Linked DNA regions of Homo sapiens. The protein of the gene in region 2 interacts with the protein of the main gene of each other region in a pairwise test. Each region holds a gene or a part of one and is shown on either strand. Other genes may lie near its edges.

Region 1 (16,876 bases), on a different chromosome or scaffold from region 2:
CTTTCTTTCTTCTGCTTAGGTGCCCATTATCTGCCATGTTTTCCGAATTTTTATTTGCATTTTGCATTGTGCAAAGCCACAAATTCTGTCACTTATTTGATCTCAACTTTTTTGTCATTTGTATATCTATAAAACATGTAGAGTAATACACTTTTCAAGTTTTATCTATTTATTCTTATCTTCATATAAATAATAGTAACAGTTTCCGTGATTTTGAATTCTTTGGAATTGAAAATTATGTGATAATAAAACTAGAAGTAAAGCAACTTTTCTTCCACAATTAATTCCTCAAGAATTAGAAAATTTTGGCCGGGCGCAGTGGCTCACACCTGTAATCCCAGCACTTTGGGAGGCCTAGGCAGGTGAATCACCTGAGATCAGGAGTTCAAGACCAAACTGGTCAACATGGCGAAACCTTGCCTCTACTAAAAATACAAAAATTAGCTGGGCTTCGTGGTGGGTGTCCGTAATCCCAGCAACTCGGGAGGTTGAGGCAGGAGAATCGCTTGAACCCAGGAGGCAGAGGTTGCGGTGAGCTGAGCTGATGCCACTATACTCCAAAATTTCAAAACTGTTCTATGTTTGCAATCCAGCTATGTGGCAGTGAGGCAATCTTACTTGGTAAGCAGAAATACAGGTCATTTTTATAAAAGATGAGTGTTAGTTTAAGCAAGAATTGAACTATGCAAAACATGTAGGTGTGCCTTCTGTACATTAGTGTTAACAAGTCTAGCATAGTATTTGGGTGAATTTAGACATAGACCTAAGAGCACCAGAAACTCCAAATATAAAACTTGTTTCTAAATTTCTAAATATGATATCTGTAAGAAAGTAATAAGATATACTGGGTCACTTCTATGGGACCCTAGTTCTGGTGAATAGATGATCATTATTTGTACCATTAGTTTAAACCTCTGATTCAATATGCTGTGCAATTCAAATGAAAAGTTTAAGAACAAAAAAAAATTTGGACACATATAAAATCAAATAAGTGAAATGCACCTGCTGAACGTGTTGTGGAAATGGACCCAACGAGTTCTCCATCAATGAAGCTGGAATAGGAGCCCATCGTCTCTTGCTGCGCTTGAGGGCTGTGTCTTTGGTATGTCTCTTCTTAGGAGACTACATTTGACAAGAAACAAAGAAATGTAGCATTGCTTATCATTTTTTGGAACTGTGATTATTTTACACATACATCAACAAGCAGATGTAAGGGTTACACATTACAATATCATGGCTAGTCAGCAAAGCATTTCTATTGATAAAACACACACACACACCTCAGACTACATTATGTTCCCCCGTTCTACCTATTTCTCTATTTACTCAGTTAACCACCAGGAAATGTATAGGGCATTTGGAAAGATGCCACTTTGAGAAAGTATAAACTCCCCCTAAAATAGATAATTCATTAATAAATATTTAAGGATCAACTTTATTCCACTAGGACTGGCACAACCAAAATCTGTTAAAACCCTCACTCCACAATACAATCATTTATACATCTATGTAGACACAGGTCAGCATTTGCTCAAGTATACTTGATTTTATATAATGTGGGGATTTTACAATGTGGATATAAAATAACATTTTTAAAGTCTTAAGCATATTAAGAGGAGTTCATACAATCAAAAAGAATTTAGTTGGGAAATCCTCTCCTAAATAGAATCATTTATTAAGAAATGGTTTTATAAGACGAAATTCATTGTGGTGAATTTGCTGAAAATGAGATGTGAATTCCAGCAACTTTTTCCTCCCTGCTTTCTGAACTGATCTCTACCGCTCAGTGCAAGAAAATGAGCCTAGAGTTAAACATTCAAATCAATTCTGTGGATTGGCCACACCTCCACTCTCTGAAGAGAGGGCCTGCCCTATAGAATATTCTAGTAAGATGGGAGTAAGCTTTAAACAGTCTCTTCTCCTCTTTAAAGAGAGACTCAAACCCGCAATCAGTGGGAAGAGAGCCGCACAGGGTGGAGCCCACATCTCCAGCCTGAATCACATTTCGCTGAGTTTTAGACCCGCCCCTGTCTTGTCCTTGCTCCTCAGGTTGGTTTGTTCTTATTCCCAAACTTGAAATCACTATTAGAAAACTCTGATATTCTTACTTTGCTCCTGGTCTACAGAGTCATTCATCTTTATAAAAGTTTGTAAATGGCTCTGCCACTCCTTAAAAGTCTAGTCTTTATTTACACTAATTGTAAGTGGAAAAGACAAATTTGTCATTCAATAGCATAGATTTTAACATGAAACACGTTAAAACACATGAAACACGAAGGACTCCCGTAAGCATATTACTGTGCTAGGCTGCTTAAGCCCTTGCCTTATACCTTGTTTTCTCTTGCTGACAGTACAACTTTTATCTCTTGTTGTTCCCGTCTCTGACCATCTGAAAGGAAAATGGAAAAACTTTTCCTTTCAGAAGACAAAATGAGGTCATGTGTTGTGTAAATTGAGCCATCTTCTAGAATTCTGAAGGCAGGGTCACTGGACCGGATTAGGCTGGCCGACTTGAGACACTCCTCCAGATTCACTGCAGGGAAGAAATATCACAGCAGTTTGTCAGATGAAACAGGAGTGGAACAAGTTTTACAGGAATGACAGCCGTGAGTTAATGCATGAGAAGCAGAAAAAGGGAGGTTACATTTGGAATGTGCTCAGCACCTGCTATTCTAAAACGTGGGGGCCATGAAAATTAAATAATTATATTAATGGAGTCACATTTTCCACTACCTTCGTCATACATTAATTTGAGAAATAAAATATTTTCCTAGTGTCACTGATTTTATTCTCTTTTCTTTGAACTCTTAATTATTGTGTGTGTATAAATTTATATATGTGTATACAAACTTGATTTTTTATGTCATAAGTGGTATAACCGTATGATGTCAGTAGGTTTTGAACTTTTTGCAGTAGTTTGATACTTAAAACTATCTTGCCAAAAATAAGAAAACTAAGTGGCTCACACCTGTAATCCCAGCAGTTTGGGAGGCCGAGGTGGGAGGATCACAAGGTCGGGAGTTCTAGATCAGCCTGGCCAATATGGTGAAACTCCATCTCTACTAAAAATACAAAAATTAGCCAAGCATGGTGGCGTGCACCTGTAATTCCAGCGACTCAGGAGGCTTAGTCAGGAGAATTGCTTGAACCTGGGAGGTGAAGGTTGCAGTGAGCAGAGATAGCACCACTGCACTTCAGCCTGGGCAACAGAGCAAGACTTTGTCTCTAAATAAATAAATAAGAAGAAAACCAGTCTATTCTTAAGTAATATTTCCCAGTAATATTGCAAATAATCTTTCTGTAATATCTTTCAAGGTTTAGTAAACCCGATGCGCTGTGGTTATTATCAAATTACCTCCTTTACAGATTCATATTTAACACATTTAGTGTATTTACTATGTGTCTTTAGAGTGTGGACTGTTTATTAATTTCAAACCTTAAAGCACTGGGCAAAACAACATCTGGCTTGGAAAGGATACCATTTCTGTATTGTTTGTAATTTTTTACATGTGAATGCAAAGCCAGTGAAAAACCTTGATGAAAAAAATTTTACGTTTGGGCTCAGAACAACCAACTTATACTTCAGAGATGGCTATGGTACTAAGACCCACCAAAACTGTATTTGATTTTCACAAGCTGTTCTGTGAAATATGTCACATTTATTCTTGGTGGATACTTGTTCATTGTAATCAACCTCAAGTACAAATTTTATTGGGGGCATTTAGATTTTGAGACATCCATTTCATGTCTAATCAATTGAAGAATCTTGGCTTTGAAATTTTGGCAGCAGATTAGTTTATACAAATTAGAATATGCTCCTGGTTTTGGTGCCTTGCTTTGTTTGACGTAATCCAAGATAATTGAGCCTTCTGATGTTTGCTAATTTTTTTGGCAAGAGAAGTATACAACTAACTTTGGTATTTTAATTATTTCTAACCACTACCAAAAAACAAGTAGCCTGTCTTTTATTGTACATCCGATTTTAACTTCAAGTAGCTACTATGTGGTTTTTTTTTTTTTTTTTGAGACAGAGTCTTGCTCTGTCGCCCAGGCCGGACTGCGGACTGCAGTGGCGCAATCTCGGCTCACTGCAAGCTCCGCCTCTTGGGTTCACGCCATTCTCCTGCCTCAGCCTCCCGAGTAGCTGGGACTACAGGCGCCCGCCACCGCGCCCGGCTAATTTTTTGTATTTTTAGTAGAGACGGGGTTTCACCTTGTTAGCCAGGATGGTCTCGATCTCCTGACCTCATGATCCACCCGCCTCGGCCTCCCAAAGTGCTGGGATTACAGGCGTGAGCCACCGCGCCCGGCCTACTATGTGGTTTTTATCCCAAACTTTACAAGAGCAGCCTGCAGCTAAATGTGACAAGTTACAGCTATGAAACTGTTAATAGTGTTTCTCACCTTTGCCTACAAGTGTTTCAGCCTGAAGATGAGAAGGAACTCGAAGATAAACTTTCTGACAAGCATCGCAAAGTAATGTTAAAACCTCAAAAAAAAAAAAAGAAAAAATATCAGGAATTAAATTTGATCACAAATTTTCACATTGTAGCTTTTTCTTATTGATAAAAATATTGTCAATTTTGGAAACAAATTAATCATTTAATTCTTTACATTTTTAATACTCACTTTAAAAGGAACCAGCAAAGAGAATAGCTTTAGGAATAGCACTGTCATTTATTTGTCAATGAAAAAAATTAAGTGAATAGTAGTTCTTAGAACCTAAATCATATTGTGTCAATGCAAGAAAATATTTCACAAACCATTGACTTTATATAGAAGTTATACGTCTCTAAGACCATTCATAAATGCCATTCTGATTTTTAGCATGAAGAAAATACTTACCTTTGAAATGCATAATTACATATATGCCCTAATTCTCTAATCATCATTTTACTATTTGAAGTTATAGTTGATGAAGTCTAGAAAATAGTTAAGGGCTTTTTTAACCTCACAGAAAAATAATGCCCCCAAAAAATCATTGTTCTCAAATCAATTTTGTGACTGACTTGGCCAAAACGCCAAAATCTAAATGATCTCAAATCACATGACTAATCTAAAAAGAAATATATGTCAAAATATGGAGAGTATCCTTCAGATGGGTGAAGATTTTTAATTAAATTCAAGGCCCAGCTATTGTTTTTAAAACCTAGGTAGTTCAAAGACATAGACACTATCTGAAAAAAACAAAAGAAAAGCTATCATTTCAAAAATGTCTATAGGTTCAAAATATATTTTACTTCTTTTTCTTGGCATTTTCTGTTTGTTCCTCTTTATCAAAATAACTGCTTTTTTATTATTTAAATATAAGATAGAGTAGAGCTAGGTTTTCCAGAAACATGTAGGTCAATTTTATGATCAGCTTTCAGCTTTTCTCTGAATTCTAGAGTTACGGGACCCATTACTTGCGAGGAGGAAAGAGAATGGATTAACATCCATATTAAGGATGTGCACTTCTTTTCCAGCTCATCTCAAGTCTACCAGATATACTGTAGCAGTCTAATTAAATAGTTTGTAATTTTACAAAAATCTATGTTAGGCAGAAATCTGGAATTAAAAGGCCACATTTTTATTTAGTCCTAATTTAAAAACCACTTTTTAAAACGTGAGACATTCGTATTTATTTAACTTTTTAAATATGTTCATCCCTAATGCCAAGGAACATAATAAATTATACTTAAAGAACTTTCTAAGCATAGACCATACTGTTAATAGTTGTCTAAGTATACAATGTGGAAACAGCATATTGTAATTAGGCTATGCATAAACACATACATATACATATGTACACATACATATGCATATACCTGTACATATACCTATACCTATATATGTATGTGTATGTGTGTATATATATACACACAGTCATATATTGCTTACATTCTAAGAAATGCAACGTTAGGTGATTTCATCCTTGTGCAGACATCATAGAGTATACTTACATACACTTAGAGGATATAGTCTACTACACACCTGGGTTATACCTACATGGTATACACCATGATTTATATATGTATGCCCCATGGTATGCACCATGGTACAGCCTAGGTGTATAGTATATAGTATAGCTTATTGTAAGCTACAAACCTGTACAGCATGTTCCTCTACTGAATACTGTAGGCAATTGTAAGTATTTGTGTAACTAAACATTTTTAGATATAGAAAAAGTACATTAAAATACAATATAAAAGATAAAAAATGGTTCACCTATACAGACGAGCTCCATTATAATCTATGGGACCACTCATATATGTAGTCCATCATTGACTGAGGCATTGTTTTGCAGAGCATGACTGTATATGTGCGTGTGTGTATATATATATAAATGTACATATATATATATAAATATATGAGACATTCTTATAGTTATATCCACACTTCCACTCCCACCCCCATCTTCTTTCCTTCTTGTCCTAGGATTCCATGTTGATGGTCCTCCCTCTGCAGGCAGAGCCACTGAAGGTTTCCATTCATTAAATACTATTCCCGTCTTCAGGTTAAATCACTGACTAAGTGGCTTAGTGACACCCTTTTAGTCAGTTTCAGAGTCAGAAATAAATAAACAGGAGATGAATTGTCCAAGAGATATTAGACAGTACAGGGATCAGAAGCAAAAGAAATGTGGGTAGAATCCTTTGAAACATTTTTACCACATTTTACCAAACTTGTACTAACTTAAGATGGTATCTGAGTTATCGTCTCCCTAAGCAGTTACAGGATGAGAAGGTGACCATCAACCCTGCATTGTATATTATTTACATGGAGAAAATGTTTGTCCTCATACCTGCCATTTCTAAAAATATATTTTGAAACTCAAGTATTTTGCTAAAATGAAAAAATAGGAAACTCACACCTCAGAAATGATGGACGGATGTGTGAAATAACCCCCCTCTCTTCCCTCACCTCCAAAGAAAAAATAGCACCTTACACAGTTACAAAGCTATTAAAAACCCAAGTGGAAGCCAAGTTGAGGATATTTTCAATGACAGTCACATTTTTGTTATTTTTCTTAAACTATTCTTTGCTTAAACTGCTTCGTGGGTAAAATTCAAAAAGTCCTGGATAATTTGCATGTTCACCCAGAATCCTTTCTCTTTTTTTGCAGCTTAGTAGAACTCAGCATGTTAAATAACATGAGTTTATGTAATCACTGGTAGCAGAAGTAAACCTCAGAAACTTCTGGGCCAAATGCCTAAAGAATGAATTCACTTCTCTACTCTTAGAAAATCACCACAGCAGGATGGAAGAGGGATTCCCTTGAAAACTTTTAACACTCTGGCAGTGGGTGCTTGAGAAGTAAGCTGAACACTTTCCATCCTGAATCCCAAGCCTCTCAACTCTTCCCTGAATCTTCCTCAGATCTGCTTTTGTTTTCCCCAATCTCTCTTCTCTGCCTCCCATCCTCACTCCTAGTCTCTTTCAAGCCCAAACTGCAGAGAGGAAGCAGGTAGTAACATGCTTGAATTCCCTAATCCTTTGGTTGTTACTCACCAGGAGAGAGAAAAGGAGCTGCTTACAGAAGATGCTCCCTGGGGCAGCAGAGGCCAGAGCCATCAGAAGCAGTCCCAATGGCCAGGGACGGTGGCCAGATAACAGGGCAGCCTGGGATGCACAGAGCGGCTAAGAAGACGCTGGCACTTGCACAGGGTATTCTGCTGCCACCTTGATGCAGCTGAGCTTGGTTTGGAAGACAGTCCGGAGGCAAGTGATAAACAGTAGGAGGAGCAACGGGAGAATTTCTTTCCCCCTATTCCCTGGCCAGTCTCCTTCCTTCCAGTTCAATTACGTCTAAATGCAAAGAGGCTTTCCTACAAGTGAGGAGGGTGGGGTACAAAACACCCCAAAACCCAGTCAGTAGCTCCTCCTCACAGCAGCTTTCAAAATTTCTCTTGCCACTTAACACATAGGCAGAAGGAGGAGGGAACACCCTTCATCCTCAGCCCTCCTCCCTTTCCCCCAGGTTGATGCTGTGAAGTCCTCCCCAGTTATTACCCACTCCCACAGCCTCCCCTCCTTCTTGGCCTTATTAACCTGTCTTGCCCTCGGGTACAAACATAAATTGTGCACAAACGCCATGCAAGGAAGTGATGCCTCCTCAACTGCCATTGGCAAATCAGAGGACCTAAGCGTGTGTAATCACACTCATCAGAAGTTATCTCCCATCTAAGCATTTAAGTGTCATCGGTCCTGTAGAACACTGTAGTTCTGCTAGAGAACTGGCATTCCAGTTTAAAGCAGCAACTTCATAAAGGCATGGTATCTACTTCCTGTTATTGACTATTCACTGTGGTTGGTTCTCTAGATGTCACAGGAAACTTATCAGAATGTAAAGACTTCATAAAAGAAAGAGAATAAAGAAATAGCTAGCATATAATCTTTCTTGTGGCTTTCCTTTTGTTGTACAAGATGCCACTGCTTTTTACCTTTATATTTTTTCAAGGACAACTACAATCTTTGAGAGCAAGTCTCTCTAAAATCACTCTATTCACCCTAATTACTTGTACATTACACATAGGATATCCTAGCTTAATAGTACAATCAGGCCATCAAGTGTAGATTTTTTTAAACCCTAATGATTCCTCTAACAAGAGCTTTAGCATCATTATTCCTGTCCCAAATTAGTGAGCTCAGTGATACCAATTGCACTCAATGGCAGTGATGGAAGTTAGGACAGAAGGATAAATATTTTCAAATGTTAAGGTAGAGCCCAACACCCATGCTGCTGAGAAGGGAGGAAAGAAAGGTTTTCTTCAGCTTATTTGACAATGGGAACAATTTCTCCTTGTATGTAGAGACAGAAATAAATGTAACTGCTTCATTAGAATTAGAAGCTAGGAAGATTTGGAAAATGAATGACCCAGGAGAAAAAAAACTAAAAGATATCTTGTAGTATTTTATTGCTAGTGGTATACCCACTAATAAACATATTTTGTGACTGCATTGGAATTTGATTTCTCAATCAGAAAATACAGTCATTTTAATGGAATATTTTTATATCTGGCGTTTTGGGAGAAAAGAATGGGAATATAGAAATAGAAAAATTACTTAGATGTATATGTGTACAGCCAAGTGTAATTCTGTGCATGTTTAAGCATCATCTAAGTATATATTTAGATAGATAGATAGACAGATAAATAGATAGTCATACAGCTTAAATAATTCAAAGACAAATTCTCCAACCCTAGAAAATAGAAACACATTTTTTTCAGCTAATGAAGTTATCATTACCTTTTTCTATAACATGATATTCTCCACTGAACTAGGAAGATATAGAAGAGCAAAATTAAATTGGTGTTACTGAAAAAATGGCATATATTGGTTGGATGAAGAGATTCCAGGCACTGCTCAATTCAAATGAATCCAGAATACTCTCCACAGTTCTGGGAAGTTGATGTTCTGATCCTACTTCTTTTGGCCTACTTTCTGCGTGCTCTCTTTTCCCATTATCTATCTTTCTCAAAGGTAATAGAAAAACTTGTGTAAAAGCTAACCCCAAATTATTGGTTTGCAAATCTGTTACATTACTATTTCTCCCATATTTTGTATTTGCACACAAAGGTTTCCTAAAAATAAAATATAGGCACTTTATAGGAAAAAATAATTTATTATTACAAATTATTGACTCTTCCTTAAACGTGAATCTACCTTAAAATTAAATGAAAACAAGACATATTTCTTCCAATTTTCTGGCATTAGATCATTCAGTAAGAGCTCTGTCTTAGTCTGTTTTCTGCTGCTGTAAAGAAATACCATAGCCTGGGTAATTTATTAAAAAACAAAACAAAACAAAAACAGAAATTTGTTTGGTTCATGGTTCAGGAGCCTGGAAAGTCCAAGAGCATGGCATGGGCATCTGATGAGGGTCATCCCATGATGGAAGGCAGAAGACAGAAGCCAGTGCACAAGACAGACAGGGAAGTGGCCTAACTTATCCAGTTATCAGAAGTCCACTCTGATGATAACTAACCCACTCCCGAGGGTGGGGACTTCATGGCATAATCAACTTTTAAAGGTCCCACCTCCTAACACCATTACAACGGCAACAAAATTTCAACATGACTTTTGGCAGGGACATTCAAACCACTGCAAGCTCTATTTTATTTTTATTTCTATCTGTATGTTTGTTTGTTTTAACCTATGTCTAAATTAATAAGCTTAAGCAAAAGATTGTTAGTGGTTAACAACTTGGACTTAGAAGCTAGACTGCCTGGGTGCAAATCCTCTCTTTACTACTTATTCGCAGTATAACCCCTAGGCAAGTTAGTTAACTCTTCTGTGCCTCGGTCTCTTTATAACATGGGGACAATAATAGTGGCTAATTCATAGGTTGTTATGAAGATTAAATGTGATATTATAAAGAAAATACTTCCAACAGTGTCTGGCTCAGAGCAAGCACTAATATTTTACACCATATAATTGCCTAGGCATGCAATAAAAAGTTGAAGAGACTGAACTTCAAATGAAACAAACACAAAGTTATTGCAAATCCAAGGTCTGTTATGTAGAGGCTACCTAAAGATACATGAATAGGTTTATTCATTGAACAAGTAGTTAAGGGGTTACATACTGGGCTCTGGCCTTTGCTAGGAGAAAAGCATCATATAGGGTGAAAAAAAGAAGACAGAAATCTTATGACGTTAAAATAAAGGCACACTTTATGGTGAAGAACATGCAGTTATCTTTCCAGTTCAAAAGATAAGATAAAAAGAGGCACTGCAGCAAATATTAAATATATTAGCCATTTAAAGAGAAATTAAGAACAATGATTAAATGTTGAGAAACCCCTATAGAAGAAAATATTTTATTTTAAATACATAAGTATTGCATAATCTGTTTTCTACCACACATTTATGGTCATACAGAGAAAGATTTAAATGTAAAGATCCACATGACTCTTGTATTTCTTTAGTTTTTTTTTTTTTAACCTTAAGGCACATCAAGGAAAAACACCTTTTTATAAATTTAAATAATATATTTTATGGAAATACAGTGACAAATTTCATTAGAGATTTTTTTTATGACCAACTTACAGAAAGGGCTCATTATGAATAAATTCAGGGCCTCAAAAAAGCCATTTACAGAGAGAACCATTATCTCTGTAAGATGACCTAATTTATTCTAAAAGACTCCTAGACTGGTAGGAATGCTGTACACATTGATGAAGCCATTACAAGGCACTTTGGGTTAAATATGAATGACTAAATATACCAAAAACTACAGGTGTAAAAAAAGGGTTTGTGAGTTTAGTATGGGTGAAGTGTATGAACAAAGAAAAAGAACTGTTAGCTATTAAAAAAAAAAAAAAAAAAAGCTTGGCTCCCATGAGTTCAGTGTACTGCAGTGGAAACTCCTTCAATCTCACTAGACTCACAGTCTTTTGCCTGGGTAAAGGGCTATTAAAACTTAGAAGTAACTCATGTGCACTAATAATTACTAACAATGATTTCCTAAGGCTGTTTGCGTAGAATAGTGATTAATTTTATATAAAATAATCACTCCCCATTATTATCAAAACTGTTGTCAAACCTATGAAAAGAAACATTAGCACACATCTCTGGGTAGTTCAGAACTCTTTCTATTCAGCCCACATACCTAACTCAAACTGGCTTAAGAGAAAACAAAACAAAATTATTGAGGACAAAAGGATTTGCTAGGTCATGTAACTGGAAGGCTGGGGGTAGCCTAACTCAGATTTAAGCATAAATTCTCTCCATCTCTTAGCTCCGCCTTTTTTTGTGTTGGTTTCATTATTTCAGTTTTGCCCAGTGTGGAGGCAAAGATCACCACCAGAACCTCCAGGATTTCAACAATGAATGGTTTAGCAAGTCATTGTTGAAAGAATATGTCTTGTTCCCAATAGTTTGAGCAAAACACAATCCTTCTGGCCTGAATCTTTTACATAAACCTAAAGTCAAGTGGTGGACCTGACCACATGGGCAAAAAGTGGTGAAGAAGTGACTGCCCAAAGATAACACTAGGCTAGACAGAAAAAAAGGATAAAAAGTAACTAGACAAGCAAATCAACAGATGTCCACTAAACTTACTGTTTCAAATTGTTATTTCAATAATACTAGTTAGTTATTCATCACTTATGTATTAGCACCTCCTGTATGCTGAGTATTACCAGTGGTGCTGATTATACAGAATTGAAGAAGACATGATATCTCCCTTCATGGAGCTTACACTTTACTGTACGGTTTGAAAATTAGTTAAAGTAGTTTCTATGATGTTCAGGATTAAAATCCTGGTGAAATGAATATAACAAATACTTTAGATTTTTTTTTATTTATTGCTATTTTCTCCAATTATTATTTCCTTTGGTGGTCTTCAAAGTTACACGTTTGAAAAGTATTTTTTAATGTGGATGGAATCTTACTATCAATTACTTATACATTAAGAATCACATTATTAAATGTTGATTTTAAGCATGGTAATATATACTCACTAAAGATAATCTTTTTAATATACATGTTTCCAGTCCGGTTTCTGTGTATAGAATTTTTAACATTATTATACTTGCACTATGAATGTAATTTTGTAGCATGCTTTCTCCTAGTTATAAAATCTGTCCTATGTCATGACAACTCTATATAGCTACCATGTTAATGACTGTAATCAGTTCCTTCAAATAACTATATCACAACTGATTTAACCAGTTCCTAACATTGAACATTTAAGTTGTTTTCAATTTTTCATTATTATAAAGACCACCCTAATACATAAATCTTTTTTCTGAACTCAGGATTATTTCTTGAGATGTAGACCCACAAACAGAAGTTCTAGGTCAAAATATAAGAAACATAATGGTTTTTGGTATATAAAGCTAACCTGCATCTCCAAAGCAGAATACCAATATACCTTCTTACTGTCAATATAACAGTAAATATCCTAGTAAGAATTGAATATAGTCATTTAATTTTTTAAAATCTTGCTGTGTTGATGAGAAAGAAATTATAGACATGATTTGAATTTGAATTATTTGCCTATTCATGATGTTGAGTACTTTTTCATGACTTCCAAGCAGTTGCATTTTCTCTTATGATGCATATGCACTTTTTTTTTTTTTGAGAGACAGAGTTTCACTCTTTGGCCCAGGCTGGAGCGAAGTGGCGGGATCTTGGCTCACTGTAACTTCCGACCCCATCCCCACCCGAGTTCAAGCGATTCTCCTGCCTCAGCCTCCCCAGTAGCTGGGATTACAGGCGTCCACCACCACGCCCAGCTAATTTTTGTATTTTTAGTAGAGATGGAGTTTCACCATGTTGGCCAGGCTGGTCTCAAGCTCCTGACCTCAGGTGTTCCAGGCTTCGGCCTACCAAAGTGCTGGGATTACAGGTGTGAGCCACAGCACCTGGCCTCTATGCACTTTTAATACCTCAGCAGGTATTTGGAACTATGAGAAAATTATAACATTTAAAATAAACCAAAGAAGTTAACAAGTAAATCTCTCTCTTAAATGGGGTTTCCTTTGAGATCAGAAAGTTGTTACTCCTTTTAATACCTAGCCTTTTATTATATGTTTGTGATTGAATCCGATGACAGTGAAATCGAATTTTTGTTTTATAAGTTGGTTGAAAACCTAATCTTTCCTGAGAAACTATTGGCATTTTTGGAACTAACAACCACAAAACTCACCCAGAGCATTATAAATTGATTTGTTGGCTAGATTGAAATGCAGGTGTTGTTACTTGTATAGCAAATGTGGTGCATACTCAAAGAAACCATTTCTATTTCTTTGCTATTGAACTAAATATAAAACCAAATCCTCAAGGTTTCTGCACCTTGTTTTGGACGTAACAAAAATGAATCTCTATTGATTGGTTTCTGAATAGTGTTTCATAAAATGCCCTTAAGAATTTATCTTACCTAAGGTTAATCGAACAAACAAACCATAAACTCAATGGCTCAGATGCTGCTTTGTGGGTCTAAGGGTGAAGATGAAGGATTAAATTGCTGATCTTTCCAATGATCACTATAAACTGCTGCTATTTCTATGTACTGAAAAATTAGAAAGATGAAAATGGAAGACTGAAACTATTTTACGTGATCAAATAAAACACTTTCTCCTGTAGGGATGTGGATAGAGAAGATGACAGATTGTGCTGTCTTTTGGTAAAAGTTTCCTTTTCCACAGAGAAATTTAAACTAGAATATTTCTGAGAATTATTTCCTGTACCTTGGAGATGTTTGTGAGTGCCTGCAAGCTTGTCTTTCACCTAAGACAAATCAAAGGTCTCAGGTACAATGAAAAACTGAGCTTTACCTCAGTTTAACGTAAGCTACTATGTTGAATCTCTTCCTATTTTGCTACTATTCTGAAAGGTACGTTATAGTACGTTTCATCAAAGCTCTGGTGGTGTTATCTTAGATGAAATAATTTAATTTTTAAGGAATGTATTTCTTTACCACTATATCCTATAGATTTTTCTAATGGAAGGGAAGGAGGGTGGAGATTAGGTTGTTGTCATTACTTGTAATTAGGATATAAAGTTTTCCTAGTGAGGGAGAAGCATGTACAGATTCACACCATGAACAACTTAAGACAGGATATTGGCCAAAGCTAGAAAGTAGGCTGGGCGTGGTAGCTCACACCTGTAATCCCAACACTTTGGGAGGCCAGGGTGGGCGGATCACTAGAGCTCAGGAGTTTGACACTAGTCTGGACAACATAGGGAAACCCTGTCTCACCAAAAAAATATAAATGTTAGCCGGTCATGGTGGTGCACGCCTGTAATCCCAGCTACCCAGGAGGCTGAGATAAGAGGATCGACTGGGAGCTGCGGTGGCTCTGGCCGGTTGCCCTGGCGTGCAAGGAGGAGAGGCTATGCGTTCGAGGCCAACCTGGGCAAAACTGAATAAATAAATAATTGCCAGGCTCAGTGGCTCACGCCTGTAATCCCAGCACTTTGGGAGGCAGAGGCGGGCAGATCACGAGGTCAGGAGATCGAGACCATCCTGGCTAATACTGTGAAACCCCATCTCTACTAAAAACAAAAAATTAGCCGGGCGTGGTGACGGGCGCCTGTAGTCCCAGCTACTCGGGAGGCTGAGGCAGGAGAATGGCGTGAACCGGGGAGGCAGAGGTTGCAGTGAGCGGAGATGGCACCACTGCACTCCAGCCTGGGCGACAGAGTGAGACTCCGTCTCAAAAAAAAAAGAAAAGAAAAGAAAAGAAAAGGATCAATTGAACCCAGGAGGTCAAGGCTGCAGTGAGCAGCGATTATGCCCTCCACTCCAGCCTGGGCAAAAGAACGAGACCCTGTGTTAAAAGAAAAAAGAAAGTAGAAAGGATCTATAAGGTGTTTCTTATGACGTTTTATTTTCTTTTATTTTATTGTGCTTGGACTTGAGAGTAATTTTCATGTAAATTTCAGTATTTGTTTTGTTTTTATTTTTCCCTATGTTGCAAAAAAACGTATTTGTATGTGTGTGTGTACACAGAGAGAAAGAGAGAGAGAGAGAGAGAGAGGAAGGAGACCACCAACCCAAGGCTAGTGAGAGAATTACAGGGGGAAGGAACCAAGTCACAGAAATGAGGCGTCTACAACTTACGTTGGTTCTTGAGTAGGCTAGAAAATACTCTGTTTACTAGGGTGTACTAGAAAATGGAGATATCTGATATAGTTTGAAGAATAGTTGGCTTGTACCACTAAAAACAAACAAAATGTAAAGCATTTTATAGTTCTATTTTTTAAGATAAATAGTTGTACACATGTCACTGAACAAATAGAACAGTTAAAATCACAACACTGAAGATTTTTTAATGTTGTGACACAAAATTAGAGAATGTAGTGATAATAAGCTAGTTAATGGAAAACACCCGAGGTTATACATTTTAAATAATATGCTTGATTAAAATATAACAAATGAATAAAAGAGAAGAAAAAGAGAGAGAAGGCATGAAAAAAATGGAGAAGATGAAGGAGGATGGAAGAATGAATTAATTCAACTGGTTTTATTGAGTGGCTATTATGTGTTATGCACTGCATCAGGATATGCTCAAATAAACGTGAAAAGTGACATTATCACAGTAAGTTCAGGGTATGAGGGCAGCAGATTGGAGTGACAATTAGACAACTCAGAGGAGACAGGGCAGGGAGATCTTTTCAGAAATTTGACATATGAAGTGATGTGCAGGAATTTGTCAAGCAAGAAGGAAGGAGAAAAAGGCATCCCATGTTGGTAGAGCAACAAACACTGCACAAAGAAGGCAGAGAGCAAGATTTACATGATTAAAGCAGCTCTGTGTGGCTAGAAAAAGGAAAACACAATGAAAATGATGTTAGTTTTAGAGCTGATTAAGAAAAACACCATAAATCAACTTCAAGTCATCTGTCTGAGCCATGAAACTTAACAGGTGTCTTGCCCTACATGAGAAAGCCTAAACAAACACAACATTTCCTTCAATTAGAAGTACCAGAAACTGTGTTAAATTGATTTTCTAGGTCCCTGAAGCAAAAGACCCTAAAGAGTGGTGTTTCTAAGGTTATTAGTTATTCCGGTTTTAACTCCTTTTTTTTCAAGTTTTAAAATTTGAAATAAATTTGATCTTAAAAATAATAAAATAATGTACTATAGTTTCATATATATATATCTCATTTAATCCTCCATTTTCCAAATGAGAAAACTCAGAAACAAAAAGGATTTGCCCCAGGTCACACCATTAATCTTGCATAGAGCCTGGATTTAGGTCTTTGATGGCAAGTCTGTGGATCTGGGTTACTGGTTTGAGTAGATAATTGGAGAAAAATAAAAAATCAAAGCTATAAGATAAGAGTTAGAATTGGATGCTGGGGCATCTGTGAATTTTAGTTAAAAGAAATAGCAAACACTGGGAAAATCTTTAATACTGTCAGTTATGCCATACAACAAATAG
Region 2 (16,549 bases):
ATTTTTAGAGCCTTCTTTTTGGAATTGCCTACAGATCCTTTACATATTTAAATGAGATATGTATAGGAGGTGACAAAGCTTTGCTATTTGAGAATGGTTTGATATTTAGAACTAGAGCCAGATCTGAGGAGTGAGGTGCTCCAAGTGAGTAATATTGTTTCTGGTCAAACCCAGGTCATGACAATAAAGAAATGAGACTGGTTTTCTTGTCTGGCTCCTGAAATGATGCTGAAGACAGTTCTGAACTTTTAGGGGTTCTAGAAACATTCTGAGCAATGGCAGTATTGGTGTTATGCTCCAGTACAGAAACTAATGCCTTTATCTTATTTGTCTGTTGACCTCTGTGCTTCTAACTTGACTGCAGGTTCATTGAGGGCAAAGTCAGATTCTTTTCAACTGTGTTTCTGTAGCGCACCTCACTCACTGCTGTGCCCCAGCAATTGCTCAATACAAGTTGGCTGACCGAGTGAATATAAAGTATCTGCAGCAAATGATCCTTCATCAGCTCTCAGAAGCTCCTGAAAATATGCTGATGATGCTTGTGCAGACAAACTACACCCTCCTCCCCACCCTCCCTGCCTTCTGCTGCCATATTGGTTTCACCAGAGGGGAGGAATAACATCGTCCTGTGCCAGTTGTACCATCCATGGGAAAATCCCACGGACATAGGATTATCTCATGCCACAGATCTCTATTGCCTTTTCGCCTGCTCTCCTTCTCCTTATGTCTGGACCTCGTTTGGTTTTGCCCAGGTTTCATCTGATTATATGTCTGGCTCCAATATCAATTATTCCACTTCCTCCCTACTTGGCCTCCTCCCTCTGCCAAATCTTCATGTGTGCTCAGTTCTTCCCTCTTCCCACAGCCTCTCCTGAACTGAAAGGAGATGGGACGTGCCTCAGCAGCTACCCTGCCATGAGTCATGTCTGCAGTCCTGCCAGCGAGGGAGTAAGGAGGGTTGGGTCTTAGGGTGGGGAGAAGGAAAGAGATTTTCACTGGTTGTCAGGAAATGGGCACAGGGAGGGGTGAGGACAGTTTGGGAGCATTAAAAGCTAGTGAGATGACTGAGGACTGAGTTAATTAACCAGAAGTGAAATGTTCAACATGGGCCAAATGAAGATTTTTTTTTTTTCTTTAGAAACACCTTCCCCGAAAGAGTTCCTTTACAGTTCTTGGTTACAAATTTCCATGGTTACATTACCCATTTGATAATACTTCACAGTTAATGTCATCTGATATCAACCCGTGAGTGAAGTAGACACACGAGTATCATCATTCCCTTTTTATGGATGAGAAAACTGAGGCCCAGAGAAATTAAACTATCTAAAGTCACAGAGCCAGAGAGGGGCAGAACTAGGACTAGAACCTAAGCCTCCTAAGCTCTGAACTGGTAATGTCATTTAAGTAAAGACACGTACCATCTGTACTGTCAGCATAATCATCCATTCCGGCTGCTGGTGCAGTGATCTGCCTTCCTTGGGTTTCATCTAATCCCTTTATGCTGCATTCCTAAGCCATTTTCTCAATTTGGTCATCACCCTTTGTGTAAAAGCCCTTTTATTCACATCTGTGCTTGATCTGTCAGTTTACCGGGCTCAGTGTGCTGGGTTTATTTTGCACTAAGAGTGTCATTTGCCATCAAGAATCAGGAAAAAAGCGAGGGAAGTAAATTCACAGCAAATCTAGTTAATTGTCTCCTTTCATCCCCAAGCTGTAATATGTAAGAAAGACATAGCCTCCAAAATTAGCCCCCAAAAGAACTCAGGAATGGAAGAATCAAGCAAATGACAAAAGAACACCAAACTTATAAACTCCTCACCCTCTCCTCTCCCCAGGACCCAGGACCTTTGACAGTCAATCAGGAGTGATATCTGTGAGACATCTGTGTCTTAAAGCAAATGCTGCTTCATCCTAAGGCCCCACCAAGACAGAACCCCAGATTCCCACAGAGAAGCAGCCTTTAATCCCCATCTGACAATGTCTTGAGGGCCTTACAAAAGAATTCCCAAGAATAATGCAGGCTAATGTTGCATCAGCGAAAGTAAATGAAAGTCATAGAATTTGGAGGCTAGGAGAAACCTTGGGTGTCATCTAGCCCGGTACTCCTGACTTTAGAGCAGCAGAAAATTCCTGCACTGGCTGGTGTGGTTGTATCCTGAGCATCTACTGCAGTGCTTGTCACAGAATTAGGGCTCAATAAATATTTGTTCAGTAAATGGATAGATGAAGTATAGTGGATTGAGATCACTTAGAAAGCAGACAGAGCCAGGATTACAGGATCTAAAATAACCTCTATCCATGTTAATTTAACAAATAATCTTAAGAATTATTGTAATCTTTTTTCATGTACATTAGTTCATTTAATCCTGAAAATGACCCCAGAAGTTCTTTGTTATATCCACTTTCCATGTGAAGAAGCTGAGTCCCAAAGTTTGAAGTAACTTGCCCAAAGCCACATCTCAGTGAGTAGCAGAGTTAAAATTTGAACCCAAATGTGTCGGGTTGTCAGGGAGGCTCCACTCTAGCATGCAGTGTCATATGCAGGAGTCAATGCAGTGGACATGTTCTCTTGGCTCTTTGACCATAGGCACAGAACGAACAGAGATGACCCTTTAGGATTTTCCTAGAAACATCTAAACTGGTCCATTAATAGACCTCAAGAATGCAAACATTTCCCAAATCCATGATCAAATCAGACCTACTGGGAAATGGACTTGTTTTTAAATGCCTTTTAAAAATGCTTTTCCTAAAATATTATCATTTGAGACATTCAAAAATATCCAGTCAGCCCAAACGAGAGCCACCTATGAAACAATGGCCAAGTCAACAGACCTAGTCAGAGTTGATGAGCCTCAACTCACGGACCAAAGCCTACATCACTCTTTTTAGCAACTGGTGCCGGTTTTCTCCACTATAAACCTCAAACCATCCCCACAAGTACTCCAGGTCTTTTAGGATGGAAGCAGTTCCTTACCGGATATCCCCATGAGCCATTCCCTGCCTGGAACTTGGAGTAGTAGCTGCTCCTGCTGGTGGTCCCATAGTTGTAATTGTCAGCCAAGCCATCATACATGGAACCTAGAGGAGAAAGGAGGGGATTAGGACAGGGATGGCCATGATCTTCATCCACCCCTGTTCCTCAGGGCATCACTTCTGCATCCAGGTCCACTATGCCCATGGAGGAGACCAGGTCTGAGCTCCTGGAGGAGAAGGTGGGGAATGTCATCTCCATCTATCTCCACATCCTCCACAGCCGGGACCAAGGGAAGGGCTACCACAGACTCCTGCAGGGACAGCTCTAAAACTCTCATCTGTCCCCTTCCTGGGAGCCCAGTGGCTCCACTGCTGCTTGGGTAGGTTAACACCTACAGGTCAGGACTTGGTCTGGAGGGCCTTGGAGCACGGCCATTCCAGCCCAGGGAATCATCACTCCATGTTCCACAAGGATAAGATTCCCACTCAGGGGAGACAGGCAGGATTCCGACATTCCCAGTCCAGCAGCAACAGCTGATTAGAGATTGATTCAGGACAGGACTCTGGATTCAAATCTCAGCCCAGCCCCTACCAGTGACCAAACTTCCTCCCATTCTTTCACCTCTAACATGCTCTGGCTGGTGAAGGGGGAGCGGCGATCAACCTCAAAGGCCCAGTGAGGATTAATTAATGTTTTCGGAGTGCTTGGAGACCCACAAATGACAGGCTCCGCAGGAGGACAGAGTGTCATTAGGGTTATTAGTGGCAAAGTGGCTTTGCATCACAGAAAACAGAACTGGATTTGGGGCTCCTAGTGGGGCCACCCCCCTCATCTCCCTTTCACTGGCCAGCAGGGACACCCTAAGGGATAGCATCAACTCTGCACAAGCTGGTCTGTTCACTGTCCTGCTGTCCTTGAAATATGGCCAATGGTGACAGGCTCACCACTTTACTCACATCTCCCTCCATGCCAAACCTGCCTTCCCTCCTTGGCCACTACCTTCTAATCTTGCTCATCTTTTGAAGCCAAGCTCAAGACCTCACCCACTCCAGGAAGCCCTTTCTGATCAGTTCTGCACAAGGCAATCTCTCCTGCCTCTAAACACATACTGTCCTGCTCTTGGTAGCCCAAGTCTCATTCTGCCCTGCGTCCCATTCCCTCAGCTATACTGGGAGCTCCACGAAGAGCAAGCCATGGCTCCGTGGCCTGGCCCACACTCTTGTTAAGTGATGGCCTTGGGGGATGAAGGTGAGTGGGATCCAGTGAGAGCCTCCTAAGAGGGATATGCACTCCTTTTCTCTAAAGCGATGGTCAGACTCCCCCATCGGAAACCCTGTCTGTGGGGAAGAGAGTTGGGCAGTGATCTCACCCAGCCAAGGTAGCTCCTCCCCATCTGCCACACCCACTTAGGCTCCCCGGCCATTGCCTGGGGGAGCAGGGCTGGAATATCTGAGCTGGGAGTAGAGGGAATAGCCAAGGGGCAGCTTTGGAATGAGGCAGGGATCCCCACCTCGTGCCACCTCCCCTGTCCAGCGCCAGGTCACCACCCATAGCCCACAGCAGAGAGTGCTGCCCAACTCTCTGCACCCTTCCATCATGGACATTAGGGGTCTCAAGCTGTGGCAGACACAGCTTGCCCTGGGGGCCTAGCGGTGTTGATATTTGTCCTGGTTCTGGCACCTGGGCAAGTCACTTGCTCTCTCTGAGCCTCAGTGTCCTCTTCTGTCAAAAGAGAGGGTTGGCCTCTTACCTCCCATAGGCCCCGTACAGTTCCACTGCCCTGTGGTGGTGTGATGATAGTGACACGTGCCTGACTGCGTTCAGAGGAGCCGACTCCTCCTCTCCAGAGACACAGCTCAGCTTACAAGGAAGAAGGGCAGACATCAAAGGCCACACTACCGCCTCGTTTGCCACCTGCCTCAGGGTCCTCTGAGAGGCCTCCCCTATACTCCAGGCCTAGCCCTGACTCCAGAAGGGCCATCCGCCTATGAGCAACATCCTGGGACTCTGCCATGTGGCCCATTGAACCTCTGGCTTCCTCCAAGCTCCCTGTAGAGTGCACACAGCTCTTCCTCCACCTTTCTCCAGCAACCGCTCCTCTGGCAAGACTGTCCTTATCAGGAAGAGGCTGGAGGCAATCTCATGGGCTCAGTCACTCAGGACTGGTGCTCCCAAGGAAGGGGGCTGCAGCCAGGCACACTCATAGTCAGGACCCTAGGTGGCCAACCACCAGGTCTTGTCTGCCTCCCTTCCACCCAGCCCACTTTGATCATTCTTCCAAGGTTTGATAGGATAGAGTTCATTTGGATCTGGCCCTGTGAGCAGGTATTTCTCACCAAAGGTCAGGTGTGGGTCAGTCAGCTGCTTCTGGGTGGAAAATTTGGGGTGGTGACAGACAGAACTTTATGGAGCACCGGGGAGGCCTCCTGCTATGAGAAGCAGCCCCGGGGGGCTTGCACCAGGGCCTTCTTGCCCGTCTTCTGGGAGAGAACCTGTCAGCATGATGCTGCTCTCCCCATGGGTCATCAGACTAACCATCTCCTCCCGCCACACCCTGCACCTGCCTGCCTCCCTCTCATACACTCTTCTCTGTATGAAGGTAGAGGCCTCTCTGCCATGGAGGTGGCAGTGGACACACAGACACATGGAGGGAGAGGCCAGAATGCCCTGCAGTTCCCAAAGCCAGTCCCCATGTCCAGCATGAACTCTGGTAAAGGCAGGTGTGACTGTCACTCACTTGTGGCCTGCAGGCCCTTCCAGGCAGTTCCTGAAGGCATCTCCTAAGACCTATCTGTAGTTGGGGTCTGCTTGGCTCTGGTGAGAATGAGGGTAACATCACACCTGCCTGCACTGCTAATCTGGCAGAAGGTGACAGTATTTGGGGCGGAGGTGGTGAGAGAGGGGAAAAGTCCATAGTTGTCACACACCTGAAATCACAGCTCGCAGTGTGCCAGATAACCAAGGAGTACTGGGGGCAGGTGTGCTCTGTCTGTAAGAGCACTGCTCCCACAACAAAAGTGATTTTCCCTCTCTTGACCCTGGGGTGTCTGACTGGTAAGTAATGCCCTCTAAAAGTCAAGTTCAATAGCAAGAGCATGGGCTTCTAATGAGTGTAATGGTGCTAGCTCACTCTTCCACTTGGTCCCCGATGTCTCTAGAATGCACTTCTAGGAAGCCTTTCCTGATGAATGACGCCTACTCCCATCTCCATCTCACGCCCGTACAAGTCTCCACCACCATGTACTTTGGACACTCTCTGAAGTGCGAACCATGTCTTTCTTTCCCTGGGACCTTGAGTTCAGGGCATTGCCCCAGCTGGGTCTGGGCCTGACTGGCTTGAGCTGGCTCTTTGCGTCAATGACCTCTTCTCCCTTGCCCAACCCTTGTGGTGAACGTGCTCTGATGCCTGGTGCTTAGAGGCTTAGAATGGGGTCAGGCTCTCCTCCCACTCAAAGAGGTCCCTGGTGAGTGGGGTAAACCAGGAAGAGAGGAGGGCTGCTGCAGCTCTCAAATACCCAAGGCCACCTCCTTGAGGAGGATTCTTAGTTCCTGGGGAATGGGGGAGGGGCTAGTTCCCAGCTCACCCCACAGAATCACTCCTACCCTCCAGCTAAGCATCTGCTTTGCCCCTCTTCTCCCCATATGGGTGCATGCAGCATGAGCAGGGATGTGGTGGCTTCTCGGTGACACTGACAGTGTGCCCAACCTGTGTGCCATCCTCAGGAAGCATCTGCCCACCCACAGAACCCCAAGGTCAAGGAGCAAGTGCCTCAGAGCATCTGCCACTTTCCCAGGTATACAAGCAACACAACCTGCTCTGTCCACATAGCTCGTCTGATTTTACATCCGCGTTTTAGGGTGTAAAACCATCTCAGAAAATCTACCGCTCAGGTCACCAGTGTCCTGGCACACTGCTTCCCTTTGGTGCCTTAGACAACGACAGGCTGATTCTTTCTTGTGTCATCGGTGCAACTCAAGCTTTCTCGCCTCAAAACCTTTGAAACTGGAGGCAGCTCCTTCTTTAGGATGAGTGGAAATCTCTCTCCAGTAGGGGCAGGTGAGCCTTTGCAGGGATGACTCATCCTCTTCCACCTCCAAGCTTTCAAATAGGTCACACTTACTGCACCTGAAACATTCTTTCTCTTCTTCTCCAACCCTCCCCCTGCATTCAAAACCTTGCACAAAAATCAGCTTCTCCTAAAGATGACCGCACCCAGCTCTGAGCACTCCAAACTTGCCAGCATAACCATGTCAGCACTCAATCCAGCGGCTGACTCTGCACTGGCTTGTGGGCTCCTTGGAATGTGGCTTCTGTACACTGTGTGTGTGTGTGTGTGTGTGTGTGTGTGTGTGTGTGCACTCCTCCCAGAAGGTAGGGCCTGGGTCTCCCCAACCAAGCTGGGAGCTCCCTGAAGCAAGGAATCTTCACCTTTGGTAGATCCACACTCCACACCCCCAATCCCAGGCCCAGGTTCTACATAGAGAAGGCTCTCAGGACATCAGCCTTCCTGCAGACAGAGGTCATAGGGAAATCCGCTTTTTCCACTTTCCCTCCCCTCAAATCCTTCTCCTTCGTCACAGGGCAAGCTGCTCGGAACACATTCTTGCTTACTCTGTCTCCCTTAAGGCCGATGCTTCTTCTAGCATATTCTACTTTTGAATAAAGCCCACCTGTCCTTCAGCATGAAAAGCTTGAGAAAGGAAGCTCATTTTCTTTTAGTCTTGAAAATGCCTTTACTTCACCCTCTGAAATCTCTTTCACCCATGGTGCCCAGAAAAGCTAGGCCCACAGCAATAGGAATTTAAATGAGATAACAAGAACTGCCAGGAAGCTACTGCTGAGAGAATACCCTCAGAGGTGTTTCGGAGTGGGCAGGAGTGGACTGTGTCTGCGGGATGGTTCCAGCTCCTGGAGGGAGGACTGGGCTGGCCAGCCTCCTGCCCCCTCTGCTGGGCTGCTGGGAGCACCGTGGACATGCCTCCCCAACTCGGCAGCTTCTAGGAGATGGGGAGGGCAAGGAGTTCAGCACAGCCTCACCGGGCACTTTGGTGTGGCTCTTGACCTTTTCCTGGGTGTACGTACTGAACAGAAATGCTGAAACAAACTGGGTTGCTGTGGCCTGTGTTCTCTCTTCTCCCTCTCCAGCCCATGTGACTCCCTCAGGCTCTGCTGGGACGCGTTCAGACCTAGCTCTGCCACAATCCTGCTGCTCTTTCAGCAGATCTGTTCATGGCCACCACCAAGCCTGAGGACTGGGCAGAGCATGGGAGCATCCTGTGGGGACAGGATGGGCGTGAGGGGGCAGGGTGGTGGGTTAGAGTGGGCAAGGGTTGACGGGTTCAGGTGGGGTTCAGAGTCAAAGGCTCTCGCCAGCAACTACTACATTAAGTGTGCGTGTGTGTGTGTGTATGAGAGAAAGACATGGGTGTATGTCATTGTATAGGGGTGCTCCCCCATGCTGGATCTGTGTGAGTGAAGGACAGGGACTAGAACAGTGGTTCTCCAACTTGGCTACACATGAGAATCACCTGGGAGTTTCTGAAGTCCTGATGCCCGTGCCATCTTTCATACTCACTAAGTCAGAATCTCTGGGGGTGGGACTCACGCATTTGTGTTGTTTGAAATTTCCAGGTGATTCCAATATGTAGCCAAGTTTGAGAAGAGTGGATGAGAAGACTTTTTAATATGTTAGGATGTTTACGAGAGAGACACGATGAGTGGCATGCCTTAAGGGGAAGAGCTTTTTGGCAGAACAGCTGCTGGCGGTCTGGGCAAATGGTTTGCAGAGCTAGAGAGTTATAAAATCTATTTCCAAAGAGTGTTCCCATTGCAAAGCACTTTGGAGATGATCTAATCCAACCTCTGACAGCTGCAGAGACCCAAAGAGAGGCAGCGACTTGTCCAAGATCGCACACCAGGTAGATGCCAGGCTGGGCTCCTGACACAGCACAGCTGCAAGGACACACATGTACACACACATAACATAAGTGTGTGCATGTTATGTGTGTGTACGTGTGTGCATGTGTGGGTGTGTGGATTCATGTGTGGGGTGTATTGTGTATACATGCATATATGCATGTGTGACCTATGTGTGTATACATGTGTGCGCATGTGTCCAGCGTATGCCTAGAAGGAACTTCACATGAAGATATCTAACATTCGTCCATTTTATTTTGTTCAAACATTACACATCTTGTAAGGGTCACGGCCCATCGCAGAAGCGCTTCCCAGATTTCTAAACCTAGAACAATTGGCACAATGATACTTACAATGGTATGGGGTCGGGGGAGGAATTTGTACTTTTAAAAAATCTCTGTCAAGGAGCAGGATCCAGAGAAGCAGCATTTGCTGCAAAACACCCTAGAATACCCAGCATTTTTGCATGTGTTGTAACAGGCCAACGGAAATTCTGGCTAAAACTCCAACTTCAAGCCAAGGTACATTGTAAAGAAACAAGAATTGGTTCATTTGAAGTTTAATTGGTATGTTTCGCCAATGGAACAAGCTAAAGCACACATAGCCATTACCATCTGCAATCTCAGCTTCGGTCCCAAGAAAACAACCCCAGAAGTGATGCCTGTGGTCAGGAAAGGACAACTTTCTAGAAACTCTAATGAGCAGAACACTCGGGCAGAAGCTCATGCTGAGACATAGTCAAACACAAATACAAAAAGCCATCAAAGTGGGGGCTCCTGAGGCGAGCTCCTTCACTGTGCAGGCTGCGGAGTTCGTACAAGCATGCCCCCCTCTCCCCTGATGAGGGCTGAATAGACACAGGAACTACAGAAAGGGAGCAGGCACCTCCCCTGGCTCAATGTTGCCTCCAGCCCCTACCTCTGATCAGAGAGAAATAGAGGCTTAGCAATTTTAGATGGGAAACAGTACTTCTATGAAGAAGGGAGAAAGAGAATTTCAGGCCAAAGGCTGAAATAAAAAATCACAGATGGCTAAGCAGGCAGTGAGACAAAGCAGGCAATGGTGCTGGTGTTGTTAGGACTTCCCTGGAAGGAGACAGGACAGGTGAAAGGAAGCTCCTTTCACTGAGCTGGGTGTGATCTGTATTCACAGTGGCGGGGGAGCGCTTGGGTTAGGGCAAGTGAGATTCAGGTTCAGCTTTAGGAAGAGATTCCAAGTGAAGTTATAAAGATCTGGAAGGTGGATAAGTGTTTCCTTCCCCATCCTCAGGGAGGTCATTTCCCTGGCAAAGATCTTTTGCTGGGTGGTGACATCCCCCTCAGTTTCCCCTTGCCTTCCACACAGTCTGGGAAGAAAAGGAGGCCAGACACCCTGAGGCACACAGGGACAGCCTGAAAACACAGGGGAGCAATACTTCAGGGGCAGTTCAAGATGGGTAGGCAGGTTCAGAGCAACCTCCTTCTGCAAGGTCTCCAGGCCACAGAAGCCACCTTCTTCCTGCCCGGGGCCTTCATGACCAGGGCAAGGTGCTTGTCTGATCTGTGGCATTTCAGGGAGAGCATGAGTGCAGACAGGCATTTTGTGACAGGCTCCAGGGGCCCTTCCTCCAGTCCTCAGTGGCTCAATACTCCCTCAGTGACAAGAGAGAAAAGAGCACTAGTGGAGAGGAACTGAGAAGCCACTTCTATCACAGGACCAAGGATGGCTGGTCCTGACTGTCCTTCCTGGGGTACAAGGAGCAGTGGCTACTCTTCCAGGCAACCTGTGGGGTATGGTTGGCCCTTCTTAACTAGGGAAACTTTGGATGGGATTCAAGGGGCTCAAGAAGACCCTAGGTAAACTGACTCTGCTCTTGGAAGAGACTAAACAAGAACCTGAATCTGTCCAGGGGGCGAGGGAAAACGCCTGGGGCATGGTCCTTCCACAGCTACCAGCTCATTCCATTCCAGGAACCAAAGCAGGCTCCTGACAGGTAAACCAGCATAAGAAAGAGGGAGCAGAGTGAGTAGAGGTGGCCGCAGAGCAAATAGGGGACGTTTGGGTGTTTCTGATGGAGAAGACAAGGAAATCTGATGAAAACTAAGCCAGATAAACCAGAAACACCAGCTCCAAGTGACCAAACCGCCTCTTCCAGCAAGGATGCCTCTGCAGCCTCCTTTAGGAACCTCCGCAGAGTCTGAGGGTAGAGGGGACACGCCCACAGGGCTAGACCTTGGAGTTTCTGGAGAGGTAGCCATCAGCATCAACCCTCCCCCAGTGAAGCCCCCTGGGGGACCTTGGGAGGAAAAACAAAGAGGGAACAAAGGAGACCTTATCAGATAGAAGTTCCCCACAAAGACCAAGCCCAGAAAGTGCACTTCTTGCTGACAGACACTCAGCCAATATCCCGATAGGTAGGAGGAAAAAGGGGTCCTTGGGGCACCCAGGGCCGGTTTGAGTTTTCTGGAGTTGTGAGCCAAGAGCTCAGGCTGGGATGGAGTGGGAGTGGGAAGGGGACAGCCAAGTCTTGTGCAGAGAGGAGAGTAGGTTGAGCTGTGCTCTGGGCTGTAGCCAGAAATGGGGGCACTTTGTTATTCCAAACCTAATTCTAAAGAGGCTAGGAGGCACCTACCAAGGCACCAAATAAAAGGGAAGGAGGCAAGTGCTCTGGAGGTGGCATGATCTTGAGTGGAAATGTGACGAGAGGAGCCTGGAGCCCACACAAAGGCAAAGAGCACACAGAGAAGCAAAGGCCTTTAGGTCTGGGGCCCAGGAAGTCCTCTGCCGGCCATTTTCCTTCCCTCGGCTCTACAAGGGGCCACTCAGGAATGGGGGCTAGGGAGTAGGTGGGGGGACAGAAGCCACAGGTAGAAGGAAGTGTGAGGTGTGTGTGTGTGTGTGTGTGTGTGTGTGTGTGTGTGTGTGTGTGGTGGAAGGGCCAGGGTCGGTTTCTTTTGTCTCCTTCCACCTTATTACCCCCTGCCCCTCACTCTCTCCTAAGGCCTGTCTTAATACATAAGTCTTGGTTGACCTGTACTGTTTGGTAATGGGTAAAGTCTTATTAGCATTTTACTAAACTTAGCTAAATAAAATAAGTAAATAAATAAACAAGTGGAATCTTTGCTCACTTGTGTGTAATTCTTACCAGGCATCCTTTGTATCAAAGTGTTTACTTGGTCTATAAGCTCTCCCCTGTCAGGTACTGCCCCTTCCTCCTTGAGTTTCCTGGGTGCTGCCCCTTTCTCCCAGGTTCCCCCAGTCATGGGATCTGGCCTCTCAGAGGCTGGAGGAGGGGGTGCCAGGCCCGGGATCCAGCTTGGAAAAGTGCCCGTGAGGGTTCAGCTGGAGGTCTCCCTGGGGCCCGGGGGGATTTCCAACCTGCCATTCCGTACTCTCCCCATGAGACACTTGTTTCTACCTAAGCTGGGTGGGGTAAGAAGAATCCAGTGGGAAAGAGGATTTCTGCATTGGCTATTCGGGAAAGAAAGCATCCCTGACCCCCTTCCCTGTCGTCAAGGGACCCACTGGCCCTGGGGCGGCCTTCCAACTAGGCTAGCCTCTTTCAGGAGGCTCTCGATAAAGTGCCCTGGAGTTCCAGGCCCTCGTCCCTGCTCCCTGTGCCACTTTCCCGTCCCGCAGCGCCTCTCCTGAGCTGCACTCCTGTCTCAGCGACTCCCTCACCCCGCTCGCGGATACTCATGCGCGGCCCCACAGGGACTGGGGTTCCCCTTGGCCTGGACGCTGGGCATCGGCCTCCAGCTGAAGGCCAGGAGATCAAGCCCAGGAAGGGTGAAGGGTGGCCCACAACCGTTTGCGAGCGCGGGGACCATGGGCCCCAGGACAGCCGGGGCCAGACAGGATGCAGGGCAGATCCCTAGAGCAGCATCCGAAAGAGAAAGCCGTCCAGACCCAGGGCTCAGGGACAGGAGAACCGCTCGCGGGGGATCCTCAACCTCCTGGCACGCTGGGACATGCTCCTGGCTGTGTCCCGGTGAATCACCCATCCTTGCCCACTAGCGCGCCATCGAGCTCGCGGGGCCGTCGAGCCAGCCTCGGGTCGCGTTTACACCAGCTCAGAACCGGCTGGGAGCTCGGCTGCTCGCACTAGGTGCGTAGACCCTGCCTGGGGCCGGCAGCCCCTCGCCTCCCCTCATCCCCGGGGATGCGTGCGTCTCTTGGTCCCCGCCACTGGGCCAGGGTGCTCTGGAAAGGGGCGCACGGACCACGCGGGGGCCGAGCCTTTACCTCGATTGGAGTGGCTCAGGGTGGACGACTGGGAAGACTTGGACTTCTGCCGCTTGACGGTCATCATCACCTGCTCCTGCACGCGCTGCCTGCCAGACGTGCCTGTTTTCATCTTTTGGTCCGACGGCAAAGCCAACGTGGAGTTGTCCTGGTCCTGGAAGCATTCGTACGCCAAGGCGGTCTTGAGCGGCGAGTGGTTCATGGTGGCGGGAGGCGGGTGGCGCGCGGCCGGGGCCTAGGAGAGCAGAGAGGCGAGGCGAGGTGCGGTGCAGCGGGCGGGCAGGAGCGTGCTCTTCTCGCTCTCAGCGGCTCCCTACGGCCATAGAGTGCGTGGTCCGCGTGAGGGCTCCCTGCAGCTGCTCCTGGCGCTTCCACCCTGGTTCGTCCCTCTCTGGCACTGGCGAGGCCCGCCCTCCGTCAGACAGGATATACCACCCCTGCCCTGCACCACCCACTCCACCGGGCCGCGCGCTGCTGCTGCTCAGACGCGGAGCTGCAGGGCACTGCTGCTGCGGAGCCAGCGCTCTTGGGGGCAGGGCTGCGAGTCCCCTGTGTGGGACGCTGGGCGCCTTCCTGCTCGCTCTTTTTTTTCTCTCCCTTCCCTCTCCCCATGAGCAAGAAACGTCGCAAGCCTTGAGGCCCCAGGGAGACGCCCCTCTGTCCTGTTCTGCCGGCTCACTGAGAAAGCATGTGCTCAGCTCAGGAACCGAGGGAGACCTCTCTCTAGGAAAGAAAGGAGTCTTTCTTGACCAGGCTGCCCAGGAGAGCCAGGCGTCCATCTCCCTCTGTACTGAGGTCATAGCAGAGACCAACCCCGGCGGTGGAGGCTCCCGGGCTGATGGCAGAACCATAGCTCTTGCTCCAAAGGAGTGCTCCATCTTATGGGGGTAACCCAGTCTACTCTAAAGGAGCTTCCTCTGAAGAAAGTGGGGTAGGGGCAGTAAGGCCACATCAAGGAGCAGACTTGGGATATCAGACCACACAGTGGGTATGCCTTGGTAAAACCGGTGGTTATTTGTTGTTCATGAGTATACCCCGGTAAAACACCACGTGAACAGCGGATCCTCTCTGAAACTCCACTATAACCTCTAAAACAATGCCTGGCACACATAATATTAGGCGCTTAATAAAAAATATTTTAAATAGGTGAATACGTGAATGCTAGTTAATTTAAGGTAAATTAAATCTAACTCGGATCCTAACCAGATCCTCACTGAAAAATTGAAAAGCTGCTTTACCCTGAAATTTCACTCTGGACTTATTATTCTGGGACCACTGTGTGCATTCCCCTATATACACTCACCCCTGGGGACACATGTGCAGTGAAGCTTTATTCATGTAGCATCCTCTCCAGGCGTGGAGGGAGCCCACATCAGTGAATTTGGTGTGTAACAGGAGCTGAGTGTTTTTTTTTTTTTTTAAGTATTTACTTTGATGGAAATCTTTCTAAAAGGTATCGCATTCTGTTTGCCTCCTAAAGCAAACAACACTGAACATATTTGCTGTACTTCTTGATGCCCTGGGTTTCTCATTCTGGACATCCATTACTGAACTGTGTAGTCGTGCTGTCCGGTCAGTTTCTTAGTTTTGGGGCCTCCACCAGTGTGTGACACTATCACAGCCGTCACTCTTGCTGTCATTTGAGGCTGCCGCTCACAGCTCACATATTTTACTTTTAGTTTGCTCTTCTAATCTACAGAGGAAAGGACAATCAGAAATCTATTCTTTTTGGGAATTTTATGTCGAGGAAGGATCAAGAAGACTGAATGACTGTCTCAGGGACCATGTACATGAAGGTCACTCACGCAACTCCTGAGATGTGGGTGTTACATGCGGGGAGCCCCAGCTTTCCCAAGGAAGGTATTCCTAGTAGCAATTTGCAGAGCAGATTATTGTAAAGCAGATTATAGTTTCCAATAGAAACAGTTTTATTATTGAGGGCGCTGTTCCTAAGAACTTAACCTCAAGTAAACCAGAGATGTGATAAAAAATATGTCATAGATGTGTACAAAATACCTGTAAACCTCTATTATCACTTCATATTGTAAGATTCTGCCTCTAGCCATAGACCGCCAGGACTGGACAGAGCCTTGGACTTCATCCAGCCAAGCACTGCATTTCACTGATTAGGAGAGGAGGTAGCTTGCTTGCAATGCCCCAGTTAATATGTGGCAAAGCCTGCATCCTAACCAGGCCTTGTGACTCCTGGCACAGTGCTCATTCCACCACATCATCCAGCTTCCCTTATAAAAGTCCTATAAAATGGACATTAAAGTACAGTGCACACCGATTATATAAGGGCCCCAATGTACTGTAAAGTATACACAGCAGCATATAAAAATACAATTCTATTGTATCACACATTTGGCCTATCTAAAACCTAATATGCTAGCCATAATAAATGTTAATTACATCTTTAAATAACGATAATTTTCCTATTCTAGGATATAGAAGGGCCCTGAAGGAGGGGATTAGAGTAGCTCATCTTCCTATAAAAGGCAAGTCCGTGGAAGCAGAACTGATTATCTTTAAAATTGTTTCCAGGTATGAAGTTCAGTTTTTCTAGCTACTTCTCTACTATGTTAATATTGACATTATTTTGACATATTGATAGCAATAGCATTTACTATGCTCCTCCAAACACCATGCCTACCAACCAGGCATTGTTCTGAGCCCTGTACACGAACCACATCATTTAAATCCTTACAATGACCCTATGAGGTGGGCACCATCACCCTTCTTTTTCAGATGAGGTAACTGAAGTTCCATGAGGCCACCCAGCTGGCAACAGGCAGACAAGGCAACTGCAATCCAGAGCTGGACACTCAGTGGCAGTGCCAGGCTGCCGCCTCGAGATTTCTCTGTGACAAGCAGATCCTTCTCTGGATAGGTATTTTAACAGCATCCATTCCCATCACAGGGCACGAAAGTCAGGCCAGCTGGGTTCCTGATCTAGTTGTGTCACTAACTAGCTTCATGTTAGACAAGTGCCTTCCTCCGTCCCTTGCACCAATCTACAAAGAGAGCGGGTAAACTTCGTGGCTCCTAAACTCCACTCTAGCCCCAACATTCTATAATTCTGTCGATTGTGGGGATTTGTAGGGCAGGACATCTTGAATCAGGCCCTTCTGACAGAGGAGGAGAGGAAAGAGAAGTCAGGTTACACATTCTGGGCCACGGTGAGGGAGATATACTCAGGCTGGGAGGATTGGTTTGGGGCTCAGGTATATGGTTTTGAGCCAGCAGGCCAATGCTATTTCCATAATCTCTCTCTCTCTTCTGCCTGCCTGAGCCCCACCCTATGTGGGGCCTGTCTCAGAAATCAACCAGCAAGGAGGCTAACACTCCTAAAGTGAAGAAAAGATGTCAAGGAGGCACAGTCACATGATCCTGGCTCTGAAATGGCATGCTTTCAGGTGACTGTCAGAACATAT

What was found.
Region 1: the proteins of PKP1 (region 2) and DSC1 interact in a two-hybrid assay, tested with the Homo sapiens proteins (one study listed by BioGRID).

What each region holds. Positions count from the first base shown.
Region 1 is NC_000018.10:31,155,041-31,171,916, forward strand, and holds the start of DSC1 (desmocollin-1 isoform Dsc1a preproprotein), read right to left. Parts: upstream 7,817-16,876; 5' UTR 7,555-7,816; coding exon 7,492-7,554; intron 4,490-7,491; coding exon 4,405-4,489; intron 2,534-4,404; coding exon 2,331-2,533; intron 1,123-2,330; coding exon 1,003-1,122; intron 1-1,002. UniProt on the Homo sapiens protein: A component of desmosome cell-cell junctions which are required for positive regulation of cellular adhesion.
Region 2 is NC_000001.11:201,280,471-201,297,019, reverse strand, and holds the start of PKP1 (plakophilin-1), read right to left. Parts: upstream 13,515-16,549; 5' UTR 13,318-13,514; coding exon 13,116-13,317; intron 3,079-13,115; coding exon 2,975-3,078; intron 1-2,974. UniProt on the Homo sapiens protein: A component of desmosome cell-cell junctions which are required for positive regulation of cellular adhesion.